Regions from separate parts of the Homo sapiens genome. Here region 1 is linked to region 2. Evidence: fine-mapped expression QTL. A gene starts in region 2. The other region holds a variant in brackets. All regions are shown on one strand. Distances are between the middles of the regions.

Evidence for each region.
Region 1: its variant is fine-mapped to the expression of CERS2 in lung (TOPMed, PIP above 0.99).

The regions. Positions count from the first base shown.
Region 1 is chr1:150,645,067-150,647,566 of GRCh38, reverse strand. It overlaps GOLPH3L (golgi phosphoprotein 3 like), which reads left to right. Exons shown (of 5, transcript NM_018178.6): 5 at 1-1,337. Among named protein-coding and RNA genes, the nearest start is that of ENSA, 17 kb to the right of the region's middle. RefSeq lists an enhancer at 201-702. The variant T/G (reference allele first, on the strand shown) is at 1,411.
Region 2 is chr1:150,973,076-150,976,088 of GRCh38, reverse strand. It overlaps CERS2 (ceramide synthase 2), which reads left to right and starts at 1,254. Exons shown (of 11, transcript NM_022075.5): 1 at 1,254-1,470. RefSeq lists silencers at 950-1,389, 1,410-1,899, a cis regulatory region at 2,075 and enhancers at 2,003-2,147, 2,105-3,013.

The DNA.
Region 1 (2,500 bases), 330 kb after region 2:
TGGCATGAAAATTTCCATTCTTGGGGTATATGACTGTCCTGTTTCCCCCAGGCCACTTTTTTTTTTTTTTTCTTTTGAGACAGGGTCTTGCTCTTGCCCAGGCAGGAGTACAGTAGTGCAATCACAGCTGACTGCAGCCTTGACCTCCAGGGCTCAAGGATCCTCCTGCCTCAGTCTCCCAACTAAGTGGGACTACAGGCACGTGCCACCATACTCAGCTTTTTTTTGTTTGTTTTAGACAAGAGTCTCGCTTTGTTGCCCAGGCTGGTCTTGAATTCCTGGGCTCAAGCAATTCTTCCACCTCAGCCTCCCAAAGTGCTGAGATTACTGGCTTGAGCCACTGCACCCACCCCTCCAGACTACTTTAAATGTCTCTGCTCTGACTGAATTGAAGGAATTGTAAGTTTCAGTTGCTGAATATATCAGTATATCTGAACTCCAGATCTTTTTATTTCCTATTTTTGGCTTCCTACATAAATTAATAAAGTCTGTCTATATTTAAGGTTTCTGGGAGTAGTTTTGTCTATATTTAATCCATAGATGTGCTCCTAGTCATCAGTCTTATTTCAGTAAAACCATCTTTCTGGCCAAATCTCTAACACGTTTTTTACTTCAGTAGTGAGGGCAATGAGAAGCTTTATTAAGAAAGATCCTATTTAAAGGGCTAATTTGGTATTGAAAGCATGCTGATATAAAGTCCAGTATTTGAGGATATAAAGAGGATGTGCACTGAGCTGTGCTGATGTTCAGCATTTATTATACTTTAATGGGATAGTGCTTCTTGACCATTATAGAACAACAAACTGTCAAAGGGTTAATACAGATGACCCAGACCTGACATTAAATCCTCTTGATTAGAAATAATTAAATGAATTATTTATTCATTTCTCTCCTCTGCCAAATCTACTTAGCCCCACAAAAATGCCCCAGCTCAGTTAACATTTTTTTGTTTTTCACTTTAGGTATCTCTTAGGCAAATAGAGATATAAATTGTAATAGGAAACAGTCTCTAAATGTGAGGCTGAATACAGCTTCAGTCTGGCTCTCTAATAGGACAAAAGCCAGTCCATGTGTTGTCTCTAACTGATTTAGCTTTTTCTTTTCTTTGAACAATTCGGCATGAATTGAAACCAGGTTTTCCTGTGGAAAGTTATAGCTTGATTGGGAGATAGAAGTTGAATTGAGTTCTTTCTTGCAACTCTTAGTGTTTATTTTTATATCTCAGTAAGACGAGGATACCTTCAGTTTGAATCTGCATAATGTTCACTGCCAAACTCCTTCTCATTTAATGCTTATGGCCTTCACATTTCTGTATAATAAAGATCAATTATCAGCTCTCTGGTCTCTCTGTGCACAATTTTATAATTTAAATTGTTTTAATTGGAACTAAGGACTTTCTACACAAGGCTA[T/G]TAATGCCTCCCCCTTTACACTAGCATACCAGCTTGTTTTATCCTATGTAGAAAATGAGGGATACAAAAACAATTGTAACATACATAGGCTGAGGGGCAGGACATGTCAAAAGCTGACCACATGAACACCAGCTAATACTATAAAGCCTAAATAGTGTCTCCATCTCAATCAAAATAAATTAGCCAATTATACCATTATTACCATGAAGAGAATGAATATGATCTGTTCTACTAATATCTACTTGCAAATGACACCTGAATTTAGGAGTTGAAAATCTTAAGTTCCAAATGTAGGTGACATGCCTGACTATAACAGAGTTAACATGTAAAAATGTAAGTGTGCTTATAATTGGCTTATTGTTCTCCCTTTCTTTATCTATAGCACAAGGGACAATAATACATTTGTTTATTAGGATTGTTTATACTTTTCTAATATTTTTATTTAAGACAAAGTACTATTTCCATAAGTCATGCTTTATACAATGTTTCTCAAAGTATATTGCAAAGACCATTGCACCAAAATGTGTGTGTGAGATAGGAGGGTAGCTTGCTAAAATGCAGATCCTAGTAAATCAGTCTCTGGAGTTAGGAGGAAGCTGCATTTTAAAGAAATTCTCAGCCAGGCGCGATGGCTCATGCCTGTAATCCCAGCACTTTGGGAGGCCGAGGCGGGCGGATCATCTGAGGTCAGGAGTTCAAGACCAGCCTGGCCAACATGGTGAAACCCCATCTCTACTAAAAATACAAAATTAGCTGGCCATAGTGGCGCACTCCTGTAATCCCAGCTACTCAGGAGGCTGAGGCAGGAGAATTGCTTGAATCTGGGAGGCGGAGGTTGCAGTGAGCCAAGATTGCGCCTCTACACTCCAGCCTGGGCGATAGAGCGAGACTCCGTCTCAAAAAAAAAGAAACTCTAAAAGCTTGCATGTTAAAATTGGAGAACGCCACCCTATATCTTATTGTCTATAATTCATTCATCAAAAAAATATTGAGTACTTACAAATTGATGGGCACTTGCTAGGCACTGACAATAAAACATTGCATAGGGCACCATTCTAGCTCCCAAGAATGCACATTTATGTGGGCAAAT
Region 2 (3,013 bases):
TTCCAACAGTAATTACTTCTGAAACAGTAATTTTACCACACGACTCAAGGGGAAAACTTTTTTTTTTTAAATTTATAAAGGAGTTGGGGGTCTCGCTATGTTGACCAGGCTGGTCTTGAACTCTGACCTCAAGTGATCTGCCCACCTCGGCCACCCAAAGTGCTGAGATTACAGGCATAAGCCACGGCGCCAGGCCAAGGGGAGAACACTTTTTTTTTTTTTTTCCTGAGACGGAGTCTCACTCTGTCGCCCAGGCTGGAGTGCAGTGGCGAGATCTCGGCTCACTGCAAACTCCACCTCCAGGGTTCAAGCGATTCTCGTGGCTCAGCCTCCCGAGTAGCTGGGATTACAAGCGCGAGCCACCGTGCCCGGCTAATTTTTGTATTTTTAGTAGAGACAGGGTTTAACCATGTTGGCCAGGGTGGTCTCGAACGCCTGACCTCAGGTGATCTGCCCGCCTCGGCCTCCCAAAGTGCTGGGATTACAGGCGTGAGCCACCGCGCCCGGCCGGAAAACACTTTTTAACACGAAATCGAATACGGATAAACGTGGTGTCATTTGAAAACTCATACATTTTACAAAACAAAAGTTGGGGTGGCTCTTTCAGACAGGGCCGCCGGGTGTGCGCAAGTTCGGGTTTGCTCTTCCTTGCCACGGGGGTAGGTCCCGTAGCACCTAGGTGGAAAGGCCGCGGCTTTTACGGCGGGGTAGGCGAGGGTCGCCCGAGTGATCGCAGGCTCCGACTGGGTCTCGAGGGTCGGCTGCTTCGGTCTGCCCTGGAGAGGTTTTCAGCTTCGGCGCGAGGCACTTGGGCAGGATCCCCGGGCTGCACCCTCCTCCGCCCGCGCCCCGTGGGGCTGGAAGTGGGAATGTGCCCACCCTGGCGGGGACCGGGGGCCGCACAGCAGTTGGGGGTGGGTGGGGGTGGGTAGGAGTAAGGGGACAGGGACACCGCCGCTCGGAGCCCGGGACCCCGCGGCATCCAGTGCGTCTGTGTCGGTCCCAGTGGGAGACCTCCCACCCCGAAAAGAGACCGAAGTGGCGGAAGGAGCCCGCACCCGCCTCCCCAGGTCGGCGGTTTCTCTAGCGCAAGGTGACGGGCGTGGACGCGGCTGTGGGGCCGGGAGCGGAGGGTTGGGGTCTGGCCTCCCGCGCCGGGGCGAAGGGGCAGCCGCAGCGCAGAGGCCCGCCCCGCCCTCCCCTCCCGTCACGCCCAGCCTCCCGGCCCTTGGGCTGCTCGCGGCCTTTTTTTCCCGGCTGGGCTCGGGCTCAGCTCGACTGGGCTCGGCGGGCGGCGGCGGCGGCGCCGGCGGCTGGCGGAGGAGGGAGGGCGAGGGCGGGCGCGGGCCGGCGGGCGGGCGGAAGAGGGAGGAGAGGCGCGGGGAGCCAGGCCTCGGGGCCTCGGAGCAACCACCCGAGCAGACGGAGTACACGGAGCAGCGGCCCCGGCCCCGCCAACGCTGCCGCCGGGTGAGTCGGGGCCCCCGCCCGGCGCCCGAGCCCCGCGCGGGGGTGGGAAGGGGCTGCGGAAAAGTTGGGAGCCCCGGGTGCCGCTTTGTCGCGGGGCCGCGGAGGGGTCGGGCTGGGAAGGCCGCGGGGCCGGGGCGAGGAGGGAGGCGGCGCTGGCGGGGGGCGCTGCGGGCGCTCATGGCGGCGGCCGCCGGGTAAGGCGGGCGCAGCGCCTCAAGGGAGCGGCCGGGGCCGGCGGGCCTGGCGCCGCGGTGTCCGCGGCAGCGCCGCCCTGAGCCGGAGAAGCTTTCCCGGGCAACAGGTAGGGCGGAAGGTGGGGACGCGGGGGCTGCGGGCGACGGGGCCGAGCCGTGGGCTTCCCTTTGTTGGGGAGTGGAGGAGCTTGGTGACCATTGGCGCGAGAGCCTCCACCCTGGCAGCGGCCCGCGGGGTTGCCCTGGCCTGGACGCGTCCTGTGGCTTGGGTGGGAGGAGAGGGGAGGGCCCTGCCCCGTTTTCTTCCTACCGGCCCACCGTGCCCACCTCGCAGGCGAGGTCAGAGCTTCCATGTGCTTAACGGGAAACAGGAAGGAGCGGCCCGGAGCGCCTGCCCCGGCCCGGTAGGGCTAAGGCATACCGTTATGAGGTGTGGATGGCTGGCAAGGGAGCTCCTGGTGGAACTGGCTTTCTGGGCCGTAGCTTGTTAATCACTAGAGGCCCGTGGCAAGTGGGTTGACTGCAGGTGTAGAGCACTCATCTTTAGCCTGCAGTTGGAGTCTCTCCCTCCCTAAGCCTAGCTCCTGGCATCAAAACCTGGTTTCAGTCACCTGAGTTGCCAGGCCCAGGTTCAGGGGGTTCTGAGGATCGTGGCGAATGCAGTGAGCCCCTGTTCCTGGAGAAGTGAGTCCGAGCAGGCCTCCAGCAGGCAGTCACCCCCATATCTGTGCTGGGGCAGGGGTGGGTGGCGGTTGCTGCCGCATACCGGAGTCGGGATGACCGCACCGGGGTGTGAGTGGCTGCACATGTAAAGGGGCTCCTAAGGGTAAGGACTTGCCTGCAGTCCTGTCCCTGAGGACCTGGCGCTGACCATACCGTGATCTGCACAGTCTGTTCCAGAGAGGGATCCTTTTCTCCCCTGGTCCCCCACTTCCCTCACTGGGGCCTCTGGCCAGATTTTCCCCTGGGAGGAAGGGCCTCCTTTTACCCCTGTCACTGGCCATAGGCTGGCTGATCCCTCACTGTGTCCTTCAACACCGCCCCAGCTGTCTCTCAAACCCACCGGCGTCTCCCTGCCCCTGGGGCCATAGTCTCATGCAGTGTTTTGGTCCGTGGAGGCCTTTGGTGGGACTTTGCAGACAAGCTGTAGGCCAGATGAGGCTGAGGACTACTGTTCTGACTGCCTCTCACCCACCTCTTTTTTACAATCTGGCTTATTTTGAGGCCCATCCTGCAGCCTGGAGGGATAACACACCTCTCATTGGCTCCATCCATGGCTTGTAGACTTCTAGTACATGACCTGCTTCTGTTGCCTGAAAGTTTTCAACAAGGAAGACTATTCAGGACTT